Homo sapiens: one gene and its partners. The protein of the gene in region 3 purifies or fractionates together with the protein of the main gene of each other region. This does not show direct contact. Each region holds a gene or a part of one and is shown on either strand. Other genes may lie near its edges. The genes, in order: RALGAPA2, RALGAPB and DPH7.

Region 1 (8,055 bases), on a different chromosome or scaffold from region 3:
GGATGAAGAAAGCCCACATGGAAGATAAAAAGTGTTGGCAATGTCTCCTGGAAAAACTGTAGATGGCAGGATGGACAACACCATCCAGGAAATGGATGGTAGATTAGTGTGGGTTCTCTGAGAAGTAGAGGCCAAGACAGGATTAGACATGCAAGAGATTTATTGGGGTAAATGCCCATGAAGGATAAATGAGAAGGAGCTGGTGAAGGCAGGGAGAGGATTTAGACCACGATGCAGGTCTGACCCCTGGGAAGGAGAAGGGGAATGAAGGAAGGTTGAGTAGGAAGTGTCAGACTTCAACATAGGTCTGAGAAGGTCTTAGGCCAATAGGAAGTCCTCAAGCCAAAGTGGCCCTTCAGAGGCATCTGAAGTGTGCAGGAACAGGCAGCATTAATACTCCTGCAGTGCTCAGTAATGGGCTAAGAGCTTCCCAAGGGAAACTAAGCTTTGGCTCAAAATTGGTAGATTCAGGGAGCAGCAGCTGGGGCCATCAGTCAATCATGCTCCCCACAACAGGAGAAGCAGCACATTCTTATGGCTCTCATAGTCAGGCACAAGCAATGTCACAAGTACCATGCTTGTACTTTCAGGCATGGTTAAGGTTCAATGAATATGTGTCATCACCTGAAATCAAACACAATATCCATGGGCTCCTGAACTTTATCAAAAGGGATTTTTTTAACTTAACCATAATTGTAATATCAAAATTTGATTACTACTTTGTCCAGGCATGGTGGCTCAGGCCTGTAATCCCAGCAGTTTGGGAGGCCGAGGCGGACTAATCACTGGAGGCGAGGATTTCAAGACCAGCATAGCCAACGTGGCAAAACCTTGTCTCTACTAAAAACACAAAAATTAGCCAGGCATGGTGGCACAAGCCTGTGATCCCAGCTACTCAGGTGGCTGAGGCATGAGAATCACTTCAACCCAGGAGGCAGAGGTTGCAGTGAGGCGAAATTGCACCACTGAACTCCAGCCTGCGTGACAAACCAAGACTCCATCTCAAAAAAAAAAAGAGATTACAACTATTTTTAAAATAGCTGTGGCTTCAGTTTCTAAAACAACATAAAAGACATAAAATGGTTATGAAACATCACTTTTCTGAAAATTAAGGCTAAAACCCTGAATTGAGGATTCAGAATGAACTCAGAAACAAATCTACTAAGAATCTATATGGTAAATCCTTTAAATGACATAATCTCTCTAAAATTCCTATTTTAACTTTATCAAATTCTCAATTGCTAGATTTTGCTAGCGGATTCTGGATCCTCTCACCTGAAAATGCTATTTGTATTGACACATCCAGGAGGCTTTAACTATGTAAAGATAACCTGTATTAGAGACCACCTAAAATACATTCACAAATAGATATTTAATAAATTTCTTTTATAATTAATATGAACTGATTGCTTAAGGTAGTAATTTGATTAAATGAGACTATGAGAAGACATTTTGCAAAAGTGTAAACTGGTACATGAACATGAGATATCAACAGAGTTACATTTTATATGCGGTTAAGTCACAAGAAAGGCAAAAGTAGAAAAAATTAAAATGATCCTTTAACTCTGGAGTCATACCCAGCAGGGGGATGTTCTCACAATGAAAGGCATAAAGGAAAGAAGACTATGGACGACATGGCGGGTTCCTATGTCCCACCTTAGGTCCACTCTAGGGCACATGTTCATTGAGTGGAAGGGCACACAACATCTGTGCTACTTAAACTGGCCTCATTCTATATAGATTTTCCGCCTTCTTGATGAATATTTAACATAAACGTTAAATGCATTTTTCAGTCACTCCCTAAGGAAAAAAAACAAAGCCTTCCAGATAACAGATGTCCTTTTTTTAAGAGGTTATGTGGCACAGAAGAGGGAGCAAGACATATTCAAGTTCCTATCACCACATGAGTAAGAAAACTGGCTCAGCAAATGACTTCACCTGCTACCTTCACAGAGGGTACAGAAGCCATGGTGTGAGAACTCCCTCCATGTCCCCATCATCTAGCACCCCATTCCTGCTTCTTTCAAGTGGCCTTAGAGGAAGAGGTGTCCCTCTTGTTAAGCCTGATCTCCCACCCCAGGCTCTCAGTCTCACTGCAGATCACACCGTTCTGCATTATTATCCCCCGTTTCTTCAGTTTTGCTCTTCATTAGCTACTTCTCCTATATAAACTCAAATTCCTCCAGTTCTAAAAAAATATAAAAGTCAAATCTCCATATACACAAACACCTCCATGTTAGGTACTCTTTCAACTCCAAGACCCAGAAATATGACTCAAGCTAGTTAACATGTTACCAGTTCCTGCAACTGAGCAGCTCAAGAAGGTCCTGGCAAAGACATGGCCAAACTCAGGACTCATGGGCTTCCTCTCACTCTCCACCTCTCTATTGTCATTCCCTCTGAGAGTAGGATTCAATTTAAGGCACATGCTCCCCACATGGTGGGAAAAACAAATGCCAGCAGCCCAGACTATATCTTCAGGGCTTGCAATCCAAAGGAAGGGAGCTCTCTCTCTCCCAGCATCTATGTTTCAAATCTCAGAGGAGAATGGGATTCTCAGACACTAAATGGGAAGAGATAGGATGTGGCTCCTCTTCTGCTTAAAACCCTTCACTGGAGTCCCAACATCTACTTACGCCACAGGATAAAAGCCATTGTGCACTTAACTCCATGGTGCTACACACCATTACCTTTGCACAAGCTCCTCTCTCTACAGAACCCTCATCCCCAACTTGTCCATCTGGTAAAATCCTTTATCCATTATTCAAAACCTACCTCAGACCTAAGCTCCCTAAAGAAGCACTGGCTGGTGTCTCCAGGAGGCTTTGCTGCTGTTCCTCCTCTGCACCTGTGCCCACCTCTATGGTTCCACCACACTCCTCTGTGCCACTCAAAACCCTCACGGTAAATTTCATTGTTTACATGGCTATTTCTCCTACCAAACCATAAATCCTGGGCTTGTGCCTTATTAACATCCAAACACAGACTTACTTATATCAGGCATGCACTCACACAGTCTTTAAAACAATGTTTGTGACTTGATTTTTGTTGTTGTTGATACAGGGTCTTGCTCTGTCACCTAAGCTGGAGTGCAGTGGCATGATCAAGGTTCACTGTAGCCTTGACCTTCTGGGCCCAAGTGATCCTCCAGCCTCAGCCTCCCGAGGAGCTGGGACCACAGCACATGCAACCATACCCAGCTAATTTCTTCATTTTTTTTGTAGAGAAGGGGTCTCACTATATTGCCCAGGCTAGTACTGAACTTCTGGGCTGATCCTCTCACTTAACCCTAGCAAAGTGTTGGGATTACAGCCATGAGCAATTGCACCCAGCTTGATTTTTTTTTAATTCAAGTACAAGAATAGTTGTTTAATACCTTATATTCGTTATTCTTAATTTCACAGAACAATAATTTATATGCCTTCTTTTAAAAAATTTTTAAAATTCAAATTGAAACAACTTGCTATTTTGAAAGTCAAGTTTTGTTGTTGTTGTTGTTTTGTTTTGTTTTGTTTTGTTTTTGAGAGTCTTACTCTGTTGCCTAGGCTGGAGTGCAGTGGTGCGATCTCTGCTCACTGCAACCTCCACCTCCCAGATTCAAGCAGTTCTCCTGCCTCAGCCTCCCGAGCAGCTGGGATTACAGGCACGCGCAACCACCCCTGGCTAATTTTTGTATTTTTACTAGAGACGGTGTTTCACCATGTTGGCCAGGCTGGCCTTCAACTCCTGACCTCGTGATCTGCCCACCTCGGCCTCCCAAAGTGTTGGGATTATAGGCGTGAGCCACCGCACCCCGCCAAGGTTTTTTCTAAATAAAAAATTCTCTATAGTTTTATATTGATACCCCGTTTGGTAACCAAAAATCAGTACTCTACATACCTAGTAAAAGTATTATGCCTGTCCACAAATAAAGTACTTACAAAATAAAAATCCAAATTATAAAAGTTTACAGCAAAATATTCTAGACCTACCAATTATCTCCCTTCTCAGAGTAAAAGATGGAAGCCAACCTTTTTCAGTTATCTTAAACGAGTTTGGACATTTACCCTGTGTTCACTTTTCTCACATCAGAAGTCTAGACAACCTCAAGCCTTAGAGGGATGGATGGTGTATTTGTGCTACATATACGTGTCCAAAGTTCCATTTACATTCTAGAGGTTATAAATGTAATTGATGAAAAAACAGCAAAGGAAGCATTACGACAAAATCACTTTGTACCAAATAAGGTCAACAGAGAGAGACCATACTAAGACTGCCTGAAGAGTTTGAAATTACACCTCCCAGCTTTGTTCTAGTTGTAGAATGTCCACGTGGCATTAATGTCCACGCAAATATTTATCACCTGCTAGGCCTGCCAAGGTTACAGGGAAGGCAATGAACACTAAAACACCGGAGGAGATTGTTTATCGTCTGCCCATGCTCAAATCAAATATGATAATCCCAAGTCTCCCTAGAAAAATGCAGAAAAATGGACCAGAAAGAGAGAGGCCAATATCACAGCAACATTTCTGGGAGGCATGCAAAAACTGTTGTGATTTTGTTTCTATGTTATCATTCATTCTACTAGATAAATACATTTTCTGATATGTAAATTTCCTTTTGAATCAGATAACTAGCAGAAGCATAACATGGCCTTCATAATCAGATAAGTCTCAGCTTTCCCACTTGCTGGCAGACAAGTAGCTATTCTCACTGAGCTTCAGTTTCCTCAGCTGGGGATAGGAACACTTCCTTTGTCACAGTTGCAAAAAGATTCAATGATGTCATGATGATAATAACCAATAAAACTAAATATATGATAGCATTCTATCATTTCATTAAGGTCCAGATCCCATGTCCCACAACCCCCCAGACACGCCACTTGGATCTTGCCTTTTCTTAAACTCAACATGTAGAACACCAAACTCATCTTCCCCGTCCTTGCCCAGGATCCCTTCCCCCTTCCCAATTGTTCTCACTCTGTAGATGACACTCCTATTATCCCAAATACCTACCACCAATTATCAAATTATAAAAAGGTGTTTATTGGTAGTCAGACTACAGTGAAAATGGCAGCCTCAATCCTTGCTGCTAGCAGGGCCAATGGAGCAACACTTAGAAAAGCACTGTGAAACAAGTCATCGAATGTTCAAACCCAGCAATCTTACTTCAATAAAATCTAAGGAAATATCGAAAAAGCTGCTTCTCAAGATGTTTACTGCAGTATTACTTCTATCAGGAAAAGGGAAGGAAGAAAAAAAAGGAAAGAAGGAAGGAGAGAAAAGAACAAAATTTCACAATCCAGGAAATGGTAAGCTAAATTATGGGATATGGTCTCAACAAATGTTTGTACTTAAAAATGAGAGGAACAAAACATCAAAAATGCTAATGATAAAATAAAGACAACAGTTACAACTGTAAGTCAATTTGTTCCTACCTAGAGCAACATGAGCAACATATGCACAAAAGGAACTATACGACAATGCTATGTTTTGCTCTGTTTGTATATACAGCATTTGTGAGAGACGGTTCTCTACTCTCTGGTCCAAACCCAGGTCACTTGATTTGACCTGAGTCTGGCTTCTGATCCCCCAGCCAGCCTCAGCTTCTGCTTGTCAGGCTACTGTTCCACTCCTTCCCCAGGAACCTACCCTACCCCTGGCCTATGCAGGACACTGGGGACATCCTCTGGGCAAGGGTCCTCAGTGCCCAACACCACACCTCGCCATGTTACTTACCATCACTGTCATGTTACTTCTGCCACCAGCTCTTCCATCTTCCCCTGGTTGTAATTGACCTTCCCCTCTACTTTCCCAGATTCTAACCTTGCTATGTCCAGTGTGCAGCCACTAGTGACATATGGCTAATGAGCACTTGAAAAACAGCTAGTGTGAACTGATATGTGCTGTAAGTATACAATATACACTGAATTTCAAAAACTTCATATGAAAAAAAGATGTAAAAAATACTGATAGCATTTTATATTGATTACCTGCAGATATAATATATATTAAATACATGGAGTTAAATAAAATGCACTATTAAAATTAATTTCACCTGATTCTTTTTACTTTTTAACATGTGGTCACTAAAAAAGATTAAAATTGCACATGTGGCTTACATTATATCTCTATTGGACAGAACTAGTCTAACCATTCTTTGGAACCCAGCGTAAGTAAAACGTTGATATGATTTGGCTGTGTCCCCATCCAAATCTCACCTGGAATTGTAATAATCCCCATATGTCAAGGGCCGGGTGGAGATAATTGAATCATGAGGGTGGCTTCCCCCATACTGTTCTCATGGTAGTGAATGAATCTCACAAGATCTGATGGTTTTATAAATGGGATTTCCCCTGCACAAGCTCTCTTGCCTGCCACCATGTAAGACATGACTTTGCTTCTCATTCACCTTCTGCCATGATTGTGAGGCCTCCCGAGGCATGTGGAACTGTGAGTCAATTAAACCTCCTTCCTTTATAAATTACCCAGTCTCAGGTATGTCTTTATTAGCAGAGTGAGAACAGACTACTACAAATCTCCTTAAAGATGCCCCTATTTTTATGACATTCTTAATTATCTCTTTTGTTCTCTGAAATCCTATAATGGATTCTACCATATACCTGACCATCTAATTACATAACACACCATAAATTTACTATTATTTTGTATCTATTCTTCTCACTACATCAATGCCAGTTCTATATCCTAATTTAGGACTCATAGTAAGCACTCAACTTTTAATTAGAATCTGGCCAGGCATGGTGGCTTATGCCTGTAAGCCCAGCACTTTGGGAGGCTGAAGTGGGAGGATCGTTTGAGTCTGTGAGCTCAAGACCAGCCTGGGCAACATGGCAAAACCCCGTCTTCTACAAAAAATACAAAAATCTGGCCGGACATGGTGGCTCACACCTGTAATCCCAGCTCTTTGGGAGGCCGAGTCGGGCAGATCACCTGAAGCCAGGAGTTCAAGACCAGCCTGGCCAACACGGTGAACCCCTGTCTCTACTAAAAATACAAAAATTAGCCAGGCATGGTGGTACACACCTGTAATCCCAGCCACTCAGGAGGCTGAGGCATGAGAATTGCTTGAGCCCAGGAGGCGGAGGTTGCAGTGAGCCAAGACGGCACCACTGCACTCCAGCGTGGGTAACAGAGTGAGACTCCATCTCAAAAAAAAAAAATACAAAAATGAGCCTAGTGTGGTGGTACATGCCTGTAGCCCCAGCTACTCCAGGGGCTGAGGTGGGAGATTACTCGAGCCAGGGAGGCCAAGGCTGCAGCAGTTGAGGCAAGGTCAAACTACTGTACTCCAACGTGGACAACAGAGCAAAGATCCTGTTAAAAAAAAGACATGGAATCTTTGCTGGAGCAATATGGTAATACACAGGGTTTTTTGGTTTTTGTTTTGTCAACAGTGTAGGAAGAACTGGAAGTCACAGGACCTAACAGCTCTTCGTTCTTCCTCTAACATAAGTAAACCGTCTGCTACATGGCTTGATACGTGTCAAGCCTGCCTGTGCCTCAGCTTACCCCTCTGTAAAATAAAGTTAATCATACCAGACCAGTCTATAGCCAGGTGAAAGTATCTACATCCAAATTGGAGTTATTACCATGATACTAAGAAATACTCTACTTCCACAGCTAATTTTATGTTTCTCACCCAGTTGTTTTAAATACAGACTACTTTTTAGGAAAAGAGAACAAATTCATCACTATTATCAAAAATAAGAAAGACGGAGAAAAATTACCTATCAAAATACTGGTCCTATCCTATTAATGGTGGGAGATATGTAATGGGAAAGAAACTGTTAAAGGCCTACTTCAAGCTGAAGTCATTTATTCATCATACTCACAATAATCCTTTAAAAAGCAAACATTACCATACCCATTTTACAGAGCAAAGAAACCGAGGTTCAGAGACAGGCTACGTAACTAGCTCAAGTCATGAAGCTGCAGGCGGCAGGGACAGGCTGCAAATACCCAAGTAAGTGGCATAATCTTTGCATACTTAAAAAAAAACTTTATTATCACTTGAAGATAAAATATATGAAAAGCAAAAGTGTTATATAAATAC
Region 2 (8,055 bases), on a different chromosome or scaffold from region 3:
CAGAACAGAAATATAAGCTTAAAAAGCATGAATAAGGCCAGGCGCGCTGGCTCACACCTGTAATCCCGGCACTTTGGGAGGCCGAGGCAGGCGGATCACGAGGTCAGGAGATCGAGACCATCCTGGCTAACACAGTGAAACCCCATCTCTATTAAAAAATACAAAAAAATTAGCCGGGCGCAGTGGCAGGCGCCTGTAGTCCCAGCTACTCGGGAGGCTGAGGCAGAAGAATGGCAGGAACCTGGGAGGCGGAGTTTGCAGCGAGCAGAGATTGCGCCACTGCACTCAAGCCTGGGAGTCAGAGCGAGACTCTGTCTCAAAACCAAAGCAAAACAAAACAAAACAAAAAACAAAAAGGCATGAATAAACAAACGGCAACTTTCAAATACAGTTATATCAGAAAACACAAACAATACTAGGGTTAGTTTTAACTCCCGTATGTATAGGGGCTAATAAACCTATCTGTTAGACTTCCCTCATTTTTCCCCATATAAACACAGTTCATTATATTCAGATCAGTAAATTATTATTCACCATCTACTGAGACACGAATGTAATTTCCGTAATAATAATTTGATCACCCATCTTACATCTACTCAGCTTACTACATCTACCCAACTTACCCCAGTATACCCTATTAACCCCTCCATTGTCTTGCCTATACTCCAAGTATAGGGATGATATATCTTGAAGACAAAGCAGAGAGCACTGGAAGTCTCTGAGAAGCATTTTTGATTTGGAAGCATTGGTGCTTTGAGGGACCTGCAAACTTAGGTCTAGAGGGGTTAGAAAGAATTGATGGGTAAGAAAAAGTTAAACTAGTTGCTTGCTGGCTAGGGCTTTTCCTAGGTTATTCAACCAAGTTTGCCACCACAGCAAAACAAGTAACAGTTTTAAGCAGACACTGTTCAGGAATAAAGACTGGATTTAGCTGTAGTTTCTCTCATACAGAATATCTCGGGAACCTGATGTACAGCTGAAGAGGCACTGAAAAGCAAACCTCAAAATATACATTATTTTTAAAAAGAAAACTTCTGAGCCAATGAGCAGGATTTACAAACCAAAGGCCTTTAAAATTCACAAAGATGGACATTCTGGAATATAATTTACATGAAATTCAAAAGTGATATTCTCTGACAGATTGCATGTATGCTTCTTACCATCTCCATCTGGCAACCAATGGCTTCCAAAAGTGCTGAATCTTGAACAATATTTAACATTGCCCCTACAACAACAATAAAACAGTATTTTATATAAAATACACAAGAACACTAAAATGCGTAAGACATTTTATATGATTAATAGTACAGATAAGAATATAATTTTGGTTGAGCATTCCTGAAATACCCATGAAATTATAGTTGGCTCTTAAACAAGAGCTTGAACTGTACATATGCAGGTTTTTTTCAATAAACATGTTAGAAAGTTTTTTGGAGATCTGTGACAATTTGAAAAAACTCCCAAACTGCATAGCCTAGAAATATTAAAAAAAAAAAAAAATGGCCAGGCACAGTGGTTCATGCCTATAATCCCAGCACTTTGGGTGGCCGAAGTGGGGCGGGAGGTCAAGAGTTCGAGACTAGCCTGGTCAACATGGTGAAACCCCATCTCTACTAAAAATACAAAAATTAGCCGGGTATGGTGGTGTGCGCCTGTAATCTCAGCTACTCAGGAGGCTGAGGCAGGGGAATTGCTTGAACCTGGGAGGTGGAGGTTGCAGTGAGCCGAAATTGCACCACTGCTCTCCAGCCTGGACAACAGAGCGAGACTTCATCTCAAAAAAAAAAAAAGAGAAAGAAAAGAAATATTTAAAAAAGTATAAAAAGTTAAAATTGGCCGGGCATACTAGCTCATGCCTGTAATTCTAGCACTTTGGGAGGCCGAGTCAGCAGGATTGCTTGAAGTCCTAGGAGTTTGAGACCAGAGTGGGCAACAAAGCAAGACCCTGTCTCTAAAAATAAATAAAAAATAAAAAGCTAAAATTTATCAAAAAACTTACGTACACAAACACTTACAGACCATACATGATGCCATTTGCAGTCCAGAGAAATGTAAACAAAGATGTAGTATTAAATAACTGTATAAAATTAGCTGTAGTACATACTGCACTACTGTAATCATTTTGTAGCCTCCTCCTGTTGTTACTGGGGTGAGCTCAAGTGTTAATGAGTATGCTGCTTAAAATACAATGTGATGCTAACCATCTCCATGTGAGTAGTTCATCTCTCTAACAGACTGAACACTGCAGTAAATTGCATACCATGGTTCTCACATGTTTTCATCATGTTTACTGCAACACCATGAACCTTGACTAACGCCATGGGACCCATAGGAAGTGCCACTAGTGATGCTGGAAGTGCTCCCAAGAAGCAGAGAAAAGTCATGACATTACAAGAAAAAGCTGAGTTGCTTGATATGTACTGTAGATTGGGGTCTACAGCTACAACTGCCCAACAGTTGAGACGATTTATCTTATAAACAGACAATTTATGGTATCAATAAATACAGTACTGTAAATGTATTTTCTCTTCCTTATGATTTTCTTTTTTTTGAGATGGAGCCTCACTCCGTCACCCAGGCTGGAGTCCAGTAGCGTGATCTTGGCTCACTGCAACCTCCACCTCCCGGGTTCAAGCAATTCTCTGCCTCGGCCTCCGAGTAGCTGGAATTACAGGCGCCTGCCACCACGCCTGGCTAATTTTTTTTTTCTTTTTTGTATTTTGAGTAGAGACGGGGTTTCACCATCTTGGCCAGGCTGGTCTTGAACTCCTCACCTCGTGATCCACCCACCTCGGCCTCCCAAAGTTCTGGGATTACAGGCATGAGCCACCACGCCCAAGCTTTATTTTTATTTTTATTTTATTTTTTTTTTTTGAGACGGAGTTTCGCTCTTATTGCCCAGGCTGCAGTGCAATGGCATGATCTTGGCTCACTGCAACCTCCGCCTCCCGTGTTCAAACATTCTCCTATCTCAGCCTCCCAAGTAGCTGAGACTACAGGCATGTGCCATCACACCCTGCTAATTTTTGTATTTTTAGTAGATACAGGGTTTCACCATGCTGGCCAGGGTGGTCTCGTGAGTCACCCACCTCAGCTTCCCAAAATGCTGGGATTACAACATGTATTTCTTAATAAAATATTCTTTTCTCCAGCATACTTTATTGTAAAAATGCAGTATATATTAATAATATGCATAAAATACAAAATATGTGTTAATCAACTGGTATGGGTAAGGTTTCTGGTCAACAGTAGGCTATCAGTAGTTAAGTTTTTAGGGAATCAAAAAGTTATATGTGGATCTCAACTACTCAGGGAATTGGCATCACTAACACCCATGTTGTTCAAGGGTCAACTCTACTAATAAATCCACTGATTGGTCAGAAGAGACTCTTTAAAAATTCCTTAATTCTGGCCAGGTGCATTGGTTCATGCCTATAATCCCAGCACTTTGGAAGGGTAAGGCAGGTAGATCATTTGCTATCAGGAGTTCAAGACCAGCTTGGCCAACATGGTAAAATCCTGTGTCTACTAAAAAATACAAAAATTAGCTGGGCGTGGTGGCGGGTGCCAGTAATCCCAGGTACTCAGGAGGGTGAGGTGGAAGAATTGCTTGAACCCAGGAGGCAGAGGTTGCAATAAGCCAAGATCATGCCACTGCCCTCTAGCCTGGGTGACACAGCGAGACTCCATCTCAAAAAAAAAAAATTCCCTAAAATAAATGTGGGCCAGGCACAGTGGCTCACACCTGTAATCCCAGCATTTTGGGAGGCTAAGGAGGGAGGACTGGAGAAGCCCAGAAGTCCGAGACCAGCCTGGGCAACAGAGCAAGACCCTATTCTAACAACAACAAAAAATTAGCCAGGTGTGGTGGCACACGCCTGTGGTCCCAGCTACTTCAGAGGTTGCGGCAGAAGAATCACTTGAGTCCAGGAGCTTGGGCTGCAGTGACCCATGATTGCACCACTGCGCTCCAGCCTGGGCAACAGAGCAAGAACTTGTATTTAAATAAATAAATAAATAAATAAATAAATAAATAAATAAATAAAAATAAAATGAATGTGAAGGTCAAACTTGCTTTATATAAAAACATGCTCATTATCAGATATTTTTTAACTGGTGTAAAAGACCAGATGTAAGCATCTCAATTTCAAGGGTAATATAAACTAAGGAAAATATTATGGAATACTTTCAAAACTAGGTTCTAGTCTTAAAAATAAAACAAACATTACTGTCTGTTTTTTCTACAGGGAAAAAGAAACAAATAAATAAAACAAAAATTACAAAATAAAGTCACAGCAATAGCTTTCTGACCACACTGCTTTTTAAGAATGATTAAAGCCACACAGTCTGGGGCTTGTTGACATCTGCATACCCTGAAGTAAGCTTCATTTATTTATTATCAAGGAAACCATTGTCCTGGAAAGGCTAGGACAGAAATGAGATGGTGAGCCTAACACACTGCTTCTCATCCCCGTGGGAGGTACTCTTGCCCACTATGGATAAAGAGAAGATGGAAAGAGCTTTGCCACTTTATGGCAAGAGTAACAACTGACTCTTCCTTGGAAAGTACATAGGGAGTGCCTCAGAGCAAGGGTGTAACAAAACCAAATACTGCTTCAATCGTAGAAATTATATAATTTCAAGCAAAATTATGTTATTTAAATAACCTAAAACATTGTAACTTGGAGGTTCTCACATATCAAAACATCCCCCTCCACATAAACCACCCTCTGTGTTCAGAATGTATCTGAGATATTATCAATGCCACTGGTAGACTCTGGTTCCAAACCTTGGTCAGACTGACCACATTAACTTCAGAAGGTCTCTAAAAGCCCAGCCTGAACAAGAATATAGCTATACATCATAACTGAGAATGTAAAGAGCAAAAAACTCCATTTGTGAGTCTAGAAAATCATGTCCACAATTAATGGCTTTTGAGACTTACGAAACCCTAAAAAACTTTTTGCCCAGCTACAGACAACTCCAGTCACCTACTAATTAGGTGTCTCTGGATAAATATGGTTCTTGGCCGTTGTGACCCATCTCTTCAGGATCTGTCCCTCAGTTTTAGAGGCCTTTTAGAAACCATTTCAAGGATTGTGTTCCTGTTGGAAGGACATACACCCCACCTCCTCTGGGGGCATAAGGGCTTAAAGGGAATGTCTGATCCCACTTTTGAACAGATAAAAATCTAAGATGCTAGGAAGAAGCTGAATTCTAGTCTTGCTAATGAAGAGAAGAAAGAAAGCCTCTAACCACTGCCAAGGTCAAGTCATCCTCAGAGATCAATTGCTCCATAAGCGGGGAGTTCTAACTGCCACCCAGGTTTGTGGGCTGGGATGGTATTTGCATTCACATGGTTCAGTGGGGACTCCTGTTAGGTGGCTGAGGAAAGCCCTACTTTCCTAAGAGCTTCCACTGTCAAGGGTGGTGATCTCAATACCCAGGATTGCACTTTAGTGGCACTGAGACACAGAAGCAACAACTGAAAACCCTTTGCTTTCAAATGTAATACATTGCTGTTTACCCAATTTGAACATCAGATTAGAGGAAGAAAAGAAGAGCTCCTCTGTTCATCAGGGTCTCTCTGAAGATTTTCAGGGAGATAAGACTGTCCCTTAGTGCTAACACTAGATTTGTCAATCACCAAATACCTTATGATATATTTTGAAAAACATGTAAAAAGCGGGGAGTTTAAGCATTTAAGCAAACAAGATAATTTCAGGTTTTGTGTTGTGAAAAAAATGATGAAATAAGATAATCTTTAGCAAGTATTGTTAGGGAAGCTCTCTCTTAAGAAGATGATGAAGAAAAGCTAAACAAAAATCTAGGGAAAGAACACCCCAGCAGGAGGGATATAAAGTAAGGTTCTGAAGAAATCATTAGCTGATGTGTTTGAGAAAAAAAGGACTAGGACGAAAGTGCAGACTGATGAGACCTGTAAGTAATGGGCAGGAGTAAGAGGAAGAGGCAAGAAGAAGAGGAAGAGGCAGGAGGAAGAGGACGAGGCGGGAGGAAGAGAAAGAGGCAGGAGGAAGGAGAGCAGGAAGAAAGGAGGAAAGAAGAGAGGGATGGGAAGGAGAGGCAAAGAGTGGAGAAAGGAGAGAAGGGAGAAGAGAAAGAAAAGCAAAAGCACAAATAAATGACCAACCAAGACAACTGTAACACTTTACTTCCCTCATCTCACTGCTTTAAATTTTTTTACATTAAAAAACTAACTTGTGCCTCTGATTCAGAGTAAGTAGAGCTACATTAGGTTTAGGCTCCCATTACCGACTGCCGCCTCCTCAGCAGGCCTGTAGTCAACAGTACTTTGGTTTCACTTACAAAATAACGTGTGAATACAAACCTAATATCATTTGGGTGTTGTTGGGGTCCGTTTCAGTTTGCAAGGCACCTATTAATATATTCACAAGTCTCAACTTCAGGGACAGAAAAGTTATTGGTTTATCATAAGAAGAGCTGTCATCGTTACTAAACTTTCCTTCCAGGACCACCTATGGAAAAAACAAATAATATTTAACATCAGCTGTTGCAGCTTATGATGCCCATGTGGGAACAGCTAGATGGAGGAACGGATCAGTATAATGAGAAAGGCTTTCAGTCTAATATTAGCCACTGTGCTGAATCTGTCACTAACAATATGTTAATAGATGTCCTTAGCCTATAACTGCTTGAAAACTGGTAGAAAAACTGACAGAACAAAAAAAAAAAATCACAAGTCAACTTTGTTAATTCACTTGAAATAACTTGATGAAATAACTTGAATTGAAAAATAAAAAAAGCTCCTGTTTCATTTTTAACATTCGATTTGACTTAAATTAGTACAAAAAACAGAATATAGGATATAAAAAAACTTTAACAAAACATTACCTCAGATTTGACTGTGCCAAAATGATGAGGGAGGGGCAACAAAGAAAGCAGGATATTAATGGAGGATCTTCGCAATTCTGTTGGATTTACATAGCTTTTGAATTTTGAGAGTTCTCTGCCAAAAAATAAAAAGCTATTAGTATTTTTGAACTAAAGCACATTTTTAGCTACTGCCAAATACATATAATGCCAATTTTTCCAAATCCAAGCATTGTGTATTTGTATATTGTATATTTCTAAGTTAAACTGTTACTGAATTAAACTAGAAGTTGATTGATTGATTTCTTTACCTAAAACGTAAGGCCTACTCTACAAAGGTAAGACCTCTGTGTTGGAGTTGTTCTTACCCTTCTAGACCAGGCCAAAAACGATTCAACAAGCCCACAGACAAATGAGAACTGAAGGATTTCAGGGATGAGGTGGGTTTGGACACACTACACTCATTTAATGTCGCCTGAGTTCTCTTGGACTATGAAGACAACTGGACAGGATACATTAGGAAACTGGGGAGGAAGCACCAACAGACCAGGCCAAATCAGACAGTTGATATAATAGCAGAGAATGATAGCTTACCTGTCAGGCAAAATGGTTTCAAGAGCTGAAATAAAGTAAGGAACCACAACATCAATCCCTTTCAAGTCACAGCAGAACAAAGGAGGAGAGTTTAGAATAACGCTGGCCAAGACAGGATGGCACACATAATCATTTATCTGCAAACCTTGAATTAAAAGCATGTAAAATCTAGGAAAGCAAGAAAAAAATTTTAAACAAACTGCTGATCAAAAGTTTTCATAATTATTATTTGCTACATAGTTAACTGAAAGTCTATTTCCACTCATCACTATTTTTACCCTTTAAAGAAAGGACATTATTGGAATTACTGGAATTTATTAGAATTTTACCCTTTAAAAGTTATTACTGGAATTACTGGAATTTTACCCTTTAAAGGATATTACTGGAATTAGAACAATTCTGAATCATATACACTAAGACCCAAATCATCTTTCTTAATGAAGAAAAAAAAAAATTCATGTCTGTTGCACCTTCTCAAACCTTAAGCCTTGCAACTCAAAGTTCTAGGGGCCTGCAAATAAGGCAACCAGAACAAAACAAAACAACAGGCTGCAGTACTTTTCAATAAACTGGGGGAACTGCTGAGTTAAATTCCGTAAGAGAAAAATG
Region 3 (8,055 bases):
GATTCTCACCACAGATTACTGATTAATCCCAAAGAGGAAAATAGTATCTCTTCAGTGAAGGGATTGGGGCAAACACCACCTTAACAAAGTGACCAAATTTCACAAAAATGGAACAATGTGGCATCATAGGCCCTTGATGTGAGGAACTAAGGAGGGCACAGCGCCACTTTCACAGGTTTCCTGGCAAAAATGCACGACCCCGGCCAACATGGTGAAACCTCGTCTCCAATAAAAATACAAAAATTAGCCAGGCGTGGTGGCAGGTGCCTGTATTCCCAGCTACTCGGGAGGCTGAGGCAGGAGAATGGCGGCGTGAACCCGGAAGGTGGAGGTTGCAGTGAGCCAAGATAGCGCCACTGCATTCCAGCCTGGGTGACAGAGCGAGACTCCATCTCAAAAAAAAAAAAAAAAAAAAGCATGACCCCATACCAAAGACTCGCCTCAGACTCAGGTGTGAACTGAAAGAGAATGAAAACGATGCATCACGCCACACTGAAGTGACTTTACCAATGCCAGACAAAACTGACTTTAAAACAAAAAATGTTACTAGATTTAAAGACAGACACTTTATATTGATAAAAGGGTCAGCACATCTGGAAGATACCAGAATTATAAACATATATAAAAGAGATCCCCAAAATACGTGAAGTAAAAACTGATGGAAACGAGGCTGGAAATACATAATTCTACAGTTAGAGTTGGAGGTAGCAATAGCCCACTTTCTTTTATTTTTTTGAGATGGAGTCTCGCTGTGTCTCCCAGGCTGGAGTGCAGTGGCGCGATCTCGGCTCACTGCAAGCTCCGCCTCCTGGGTTCACGCCATTCTCCTGCCTCAGCCTCCCAAGTAGCTGGGACTGCAGGCACCCACCACAGCGCCTGGCTAATTTTTTGTATTTTTAGTAGAGACGGGGTTTCACCATGTTAGCCAGGATGGTCTCGATCTCCTGACCTTGTGATCTGCCCACCTCAGCCTCCCAAAGTACTGGGATTACAGGCGTGAGCCACCGTGCCCAGCCAACAGACCACTTTCAATATTGCCCAGACAGGAGATTCAGTAAGGAACCAGAAGATCTGAACATTATAAAGCCGAGACCTCACAGGCACCTACAGGGCACTCCAGCCAACAGCAGCAGAACACACGTCCGCAAGTGCACAGGGGCACTCCCCAGCAGAGACCACACTCTAGGCCACAAAACTAATCTCAGTAAATTCAACAGGAATGCACAATGGAATAACATTAGAAATCGGTAACAGAAAGAAATGTGGGCACTTAAAAACATGTACATTAAACAACACACTCATAAATAACCAATGGTCGAAGAAAAAAACCACATGGGAAATTAGAAAGTACCTTGAGATGAATGAAAATAAAAATACAACATACCAAAATGTATGGGTTGCAGCAAAAGCAGTGCTCAGAGGAAAATGTATCACCATTAATAAAGAAAAAAGACCTCAAATTGTTTTAAGATGAGAAATATTATGGCTGGGCATGGTGGTCCCAGCTACTCGGGAGGCTGAGGTGGAAGGATGGTTTGAGCCCAGGGGCTGGGCACGGTGGCTCATGCCTGTACTTTGGGAGGCCAAGGTGGGCGGATCACCTGAGGTCAGGAGTTCAAGACCAGCCTGGCCAACGTGGTGAAACCCCGTCTCTACTAAAAATACAAAAATTAGCCAGGCGTGGTGGCACAAGCCTGTGATCCCAGCTACTCTGGAGGCTGAGGCAGGAGAATTGCTTGAAGCCAGGAAGCAGAGGTTGCAGTGAGACGAGATCACACCACTGTACACCATTCTGGGTGACAGAGCAAGACTCCATCTCAAAAAAAAAAGATCTCAAATTGTTTTAATACAAGAAATATTATGGCTTGGCATGGGGGTCCCAGCTACTCAGGAGGCTGAGATGGGAGGATGGTTTGAGCCCCAGGAGGTTGAGGCTGCAGTGAGCTACAATTGCACCACCACACTCCAGCCTGGGTGACAGAGCAAGACACCATCTCAAAACAAAACAAAAAACGATGAGAAATACAAAGCACATTCACAGAACTAACAGAAACAATACAGAAGAGATGGAGAAACTAAAGATGCAAAACACAGAGGAATACAGGCCAGGCACGGTGGCTCACGCCTGTAATCCTAACACTTCGGGAGGCCAAGGCAGGCGGATCACGAGGTCAGGAGTTCCAGACCAGCCTGACCAACATGGTGAACCCCCCATCTCTTCTAAAACTATAAAAATCAGCCAGGCATGGTGGTGGGTGCCTGTAATCCCAGCTACTTGGGAGGCTGAGGCAGGAGAATCGCTAGAACCCAGGAGGCGAAGGCTGTGGTGAGCCGAGATCGCACCACTGCACTCCAGCCTGGGTGACAGAGCAAGACTCCGTCTCAAAAAAAAAAAAAAAAAAGAGGAATACCATGCGGAAATCGAGTCAATCAAGTCCTTGAGTACAATCCAGTGCAGAGAAGAAACTGGCCTTGGGAACAGGTGTGGGTCACCCACCGCTGCAGAGGGCAGAGAGCATGTGGGTGGCCCGAGAGGCTGGTGGGCTTAATGGTGGGAAGATGAGGTGGTTTTGTGATTGCTTATTTTTGGAGTGAGGGGAGAGAGAAGAGGCGAAAGAGGAGAGATCATGAGCTGCAAGTCAGGAGGGAAGAGGAGGTCCTGGAGGTTTGAGCAGAGAGAAGAAAATGTGAACCAGTTCTGACAGTGGGGGATTACTGCCTAGAGAAATGTTACAGATCACCAGGAATCCCAGGGACCTACTAGAACACAACGTGGACAGCTGATTCCAGCCACGTTCTCCGGCTCAACCAGAATCAGAGGTGCTTGTTCCCAACAAAACAACACTGGGTTCTGCCCAGAGTGTGAGAAAGGGATGAAGGGAATGGAGTGTGAGCTCACAGGGGGCAGCAGACCACAGAGTCCCAGCTGACCACAGGCAGGAAGAGCATGGGAGAGCACAGACAAGGATGGTTATGGGAGTGATGGGTGGCCAAGCCTCCAGACTAGAGGTCCCAGTGGGGTCAGAGGTCTGCCGAAATGCAGGAGGCACCGGAATGACGGAGCTGGGAAACCAGGGAAAACTGTGGTTAGAGAGCAGAGATTCTGGAGCTGGGACAGTTATGGATCACGACCAAGTCTAGGGCGCGACGCTGGGAGTGTGTAAAAGCTGAGGGAAGAGCCCAGCAGAGCAAGGGAGCAGGGAGCTGAGGGAAGAGCCCAGCAGAGCGAGGGGGCAGGGAACTGGTGCCCTGCCCTGAGGCCCAGCAGCCACGGGTCCCCACTCACCCATTGCCTTTTGGCAGTTGAGGATCTTAAAGCCACTGTGCATGCAGGCGGCCAGGAGCAGGTGGTGGTGGAAAGGGTGCCACTTGATTCTCCATACCCCACCCTGCACAGGCGTATCTGCCAACGGCTGCTTCATGTTTCGTGTGTCCCACAGTAGGATGTGTTCATCATAGCTGAAACCGACCAACCACAGGAGGCATATAAGGAAAGCCCAGGCTCACCTGTTCCACAAGGCCCCTGGGGGGCACAGAACGTCTCCCAGAGACCTGTCCCATGCATCCCTCGAGGACAAAGTCCCCTTTACCAAACCCATATACCTACACTCCGGCGAAGCACTGGCAGACGAAATGCTGCAATGGTGCCAGGAGGAAAGGCAGCGAAAGAGGGAAGAAGGGCCCAGGAGCCCCCCGGGGACAGCGAAAGAGACGAGAAGGGCCCGAGAGCCTCCTGGGGACTCACCTTCCCGTGGCCAGGATGTGCTCCCGATGAGGGCTGCTCTGGATGCTGCACACACCCATGGTGTGTCTGCAAGCAGAGGCGGCTTCTGAACCAGTGTCCAGCACACAGACCCACCCAGGGAACGGGAGGGCTGGTGACCCAGGGAACGCGGGGGCTGGTGTGGGCACCGAGTGCTGGCCCTTGGGCAGTTACCTTTTGCTGGTGAAGAGAAATTTGCCGGGTACCCTGGTGTCCCAGCCCCTCAGAAGGCCATCGTCGCCCCCTGTGTGGAGAAAGAGAAGCATCAACACCACTAATGACAGGAAATGAGTGTTCTCAGTTAGGCCGTTGATGTCTGTGAGGAAGCTCCCCGGGGTGACTGTCTGTGAGGAAGCTCCCCGGGGTGACTCTGTCTGTGAGGAAGCTCCCCTGGGTGACTGTCTGTGAGGAAGCTCCCCGGGGTGACTGTCTGTGAGGAAGCTCCCCTGGGTGACTCTGTCTGTGAGGAAGCTCCCCTGGGTGACTCTGTCTGTGAGGAAGCTCCCCTGGATGACTCTGTCTGTGAGGAAGCTCCCCTGGGTGACTGTCTGTGAGGAAGCTCCCCTGGGTGACTGTCTGTGAGGAAGCTCCCCGGGGTGACTCTGTCTGTGAGGAAGCTCCCCTGGGTGACTCTGTCTGTGAGGAAGCTCCCCTGGGTGACTCTGTCTGTGAGGAAGCTCCCCTGGGTGACTCTGTCTGTGAGGAAGCTCCCCTGGGTGACTCTGTCTGTGAGGAAGCTCCCCTGGGTGACTCTGTCTGTGAGGAAGCTCCCCTGGATGACTCTGTCTGTGAGGAAGCTCCCCTGGGTGACTCTGTCTGTGAGGAAGCTCCCCTGGGTGACTCTGTCTGTGAGGAAGCTCCCCGGGGTGACTCTGTCTGTGAGGAAGCTCCCCGGGGTGACTCTGTCTGTGAGGAAGCTCCCCGGGGTGACTGTCTGTGAGGAAGCTCCCCTGGGTGACTGTCTGTGAGGAAGCTCCCCTGGGTGACTCTGTCTGTGAGGAAGCTCCCCTGGGTGACTCTGTCTGTGAGGAAGCTCCCCGGGGTGACTGTCTGTGAGGAAGCTCCCCTGGGTGACTCTGTCTGTGAGGAAGCTCCCCTGGGTGACTGTCTGTGAGGAAGCTCCCCTGGGTGACTCTGTCTGTGAGGAAGCTCCCCTGGGTGACTGTCTGTGAGGAAGCTCCCCTGGGTGACTCTGTCTGTGAGGAAGCTCCCCTGGGTGACTCTGTCTGTGAGGAAGCTCCCCTGGGTGACTGTCTGTGAGGAAGCTCCCCTGGGTGACTCTGTCTGTGAGGAAGCTCCCCTGGGTGACTCTGTCTGTGAGGAAGCTCCCCGGGGTGACTGTCTGTGAGGAAGCTCCCCTGGGTGACTCTGTCTGTGAGGAAGCTCCCCTGGGTGACTGTCTGTGAGGAAGCTCCCCTGGGTGACTCTGTCTGTGAGGAAGCTCCCCTGGGTGACTCTGTCTGTGAGGAAGCTCCCCTGGGTGACTGTCTGTGAGGAAGCTCCCCTGGGTGACTCTGTCTGTGAGGAAGCTCCCCTGGGTGACTCTGTCTGTGAGGAAGCTCCCCGGGGTGACTCTGTCTGTGAGGAAGCTCCCCGGGGTGACTCTGTCTGTGAGGAAGCTCCCCGGGGTGACTCTGTCTGTGAGGAAGCTCCCCGGGGTGACTCTGTCTGTGAGGAAGCTCCCCTGGATGACTCTGTCTGTGAGGAAGCTCCCCTGGGTGACTCTGTCTGTGAGGAAGCTCCCCTGGGTGACTCTGTCTGTGAGGAAGCTCCCCTGGGTGACTCTGTCTGTGAGGAAGCTCCCCTGGATGACTCTGTCTGTGAGGAAGCTCCCCTGGGTGACTCTGTCTGTGAGGAAGCTCCCCTGGGTGACTCTGTCTGTGAGGAAGCTCCCCGGGGTGACTCTGTCTGTGAGGAAGCTCCCCGGGGTGACTCTGTCTGTGAGGAAGCTCCCCGGGGTGACTGTCTGTGAGGAAGCTCCCCTGGGTGACTGTCTGTGAGGAAGCTCCCCTGGGTGACTCTGTCTGTGAGGAAGCTCCCCTGGGTGACTCTGTCTGTGAGGAAGCTCCCCTGGGTGACTCTGTCTGTGAGGAAGCTCCCCTGGGTGACTCTGTCTGTGAGGAAGCTCCCCGGGGTGACTCTGTCTGTGAGGAAGCTCCCCTGGGTGACTGTCTGTGAGGAAGCTCCCCTGGGTGACTCTGTCTGTGAGGAAGCTCCCCTGGGTGACTCTGTCTGTGAGGAAGCTCCCCTGGGTGACTCTGTCTGTGAGGAAGCTCCCCGGGGTGACTCTGTCTGTGAGGAAGCTCCCCGGGGTGACTGTCTGTGAGGAAGCTCCCCTGGGTGACTGTCTGTGAGGAAGCTCCCCTGGGTGACTCTGTCTGTGAGGAAGCTCCCCTGGGTGACTCTGTCTGTGAGGAAGCTCCCCTGGGTGACTGTCTGTGAGGAAGCTCCCCTGGGTGACTCTGTCTGTGAGGAAGCTCCCCTGGGTGACTCTGTCTGTGAGGAAGCTCCCCTGGGTGACTCTGTCTGTGAGGAAGCTCCCCTGGGTGACTCTGTCTGTGAGGAAGCTCCCCGGGGTGACTGTCTGTGAGGAAGCTCCCCTGGGTGACTGTCTGTGAGGAAGCTCCCCTGGGTGACTCTGTCTGTGAGGAAGCTCCCCTGGGTGACTCTGTCTGTGAGGAAGCTCCCCTGGGTGACTCTGTCTGTGAGGAAGCTCCCCTGGGTGACTGTCTGTGAGGAAGCTCCCCTGGGTGACTCTGTCCGTGAGGAAGCTCCCCGGGGTGACTCTGTCCGTGAGGAAGCTCCCCGGGGTGACTCTGTCTGTGAGGAAGCTCCCCTGGGTGACTCTGTCTGTGAGGAAGCTCCCCTGGGTGACTCTGTCTGTGAGGAAGCTCCCCTGGGTGACTCTGTCTGTGAGGAAGCTCCCCTGGGTGACTCTGTCTGTGAGGAAGCTCCCCGGGGTGACTCTGTCTGTGAGGAAGCTCCCCGGGGTGACTCTGTCTGTGAGGAAGCTCCCCGGGGTGACTCTGTCTGTGAGGAAGCTCCCCGGGGTGACTCTGTCTGTGAGGAAGCTCCCCTGGGTGACTCTGTCTGTGAGGAAGCTCCCCTGGGTGACTGTCTGTGAGGAAGCTCCCCTGGGTGACTCTGTCTGTGAGGAAGCTCCCCTGGGTGACTCTGTCTGTGAGGAAGCTCCCCTGGGTGACTCTGTCTGTGAGGAAGCTCCCCGGGGTGACTCTGTCTGTGAGGAAGCTCCCCTGGGTGACTCTGTCTGTGAGGAAGCTCCCCTGGGTGACTGTCTGTGAGGAAGCTCCCCTGGGTGACTCTGTCTGTGAGGAAGCTCCCCTGGGTGACTCTGTGAGGAAGCTCCCCTGGGTGACTCTGTCTGTGAGGAAGCTCCCCTGGGTGACTGTCTGTGAGGAAGCTCCCCTGGGTGACTCTGTCTGTGAGGAAGCTCCCCTGGGTGACTCTGTCTGTGAGGAAGCTCCCCTGGGTGACTCTGTCTGTGAGGAAGCTCCCCTGGGTGACTCTGTCTGTGAGGAAGCTCCCCTGGGTGACTCTGTCTGTGAGGAAGCTCCCCTGGGTGACTCTGTCTGTGAGGAAGCTCCCCTGGGTGACTGTCTGTGAGGAAGCTCCCCTGGGTGACTCTGTCTGTGAGGAAGCTCCCCGGGGTGACTCTGTCTGTGAGGAAGTTCCCCTGGTGACTTTGCTGGAGGAGTCTTAGGTTGCCACCTCAACAGGAGGTCCCAGAAACAACCCCCAGGAAAGTCATCACTGTGCCTTGACTCTCTAGAGACTGGAAGCAGGAGGGGAAAGACGGACGGGAACAGAAAGAAGCCTGCAGGAACAGAAGGGAGGAAATGGAAACTGAAGGGGCCCTGAAGGCCATCAGGTGCAGGCGACCATTGTTCACAGGGGCCGTTACTAGGTCCTAGGGGCTAAACTGCCTTTGCTAAGGGCTCCAGTGAATAAAGCCCTGGCTTCTAAGAAGAAGAGTTGCCAGATCAGAGCCCTGAACAGAAACTGCACACAGGAGGCAGCAAGCACAAGGACTCCACACCATGCACCTGAAAGGAAGGTGCCCTCTGTCATCTTAAAGCACTTGTTTAGGGGAACGAAAAGGATGGGAGAAGAGAGGAGTTGGTGCACTGAACCACAACCAATCTTCCAAGAAAAGCAATGCAGACATGGGGTGAATGGTGGCACCTGAAGGAAGGGAAGCTCAAGAGCAGGGCCCACAGGGAGAGTGAAGAAGATCAGAAGGAAAACGTCTAGGCCTAACCACATCACCCACC

Evidence for each region.
Region 1: the proteins of DPH7 (region 3) and RALGAPA2 purify together in Homo sapiens (affinity purification with mass spectrometry; 2 studies listed by BioGRID and IntAct, with this or other methods). This does not show direct contact.
Region 2: the proteins of DPH7 (region 3) and RALGAPB purify together in Homo sapiens (affinity purification with mass spectrometry; 2 studies listed by BioGRID and IntAct, with this or other methods). This does not show direct contact.

The regions. Positions count from the first base shown.
Region 1 is NC_000020.11:20,702,169-20,710,223, forward strand, and holds part of RALGAPA2 (ral GTPase-activating protein subunit alpha-2), read right to left. Parts: intron 1-8,055.
Region 2 is NC_000020.11:38,524,337-38,532,391, reverse strand, and holds part of RALGAPB (ral GTPase-activating protein subunit beta), read right to left. Parts: intron 7,615-8,055; coding exon 7,447-7,614; intron 6,989-7,446; coding exon 6,874-6,988; intron 6,498-6,873; coding exon 6,350-6,497; intron 1,226-6,349; coding exon 1,161-1,225; intron 1-1,160. UniProt on the Homo sapiens protein: Non-catalytic subunit of the heterodimeric RalGAP1 and RalGAP2 complexes which act as GTPase activators for the Ras-like small GTPases RALA and RALB.
Region 3 is NC_000009.12:137,561,148-137,569,202, forward strand, and holds part of DPH7 (diphthine methyltransferase), read right to left. Parts: intron 4,008-8,055; coding exon 3,938-4,007; intron 3,812-3,937; coding exon 3,746-3,811; intron 3,460-3,745; coding exon 3,287-3,459; intron 1-3,286.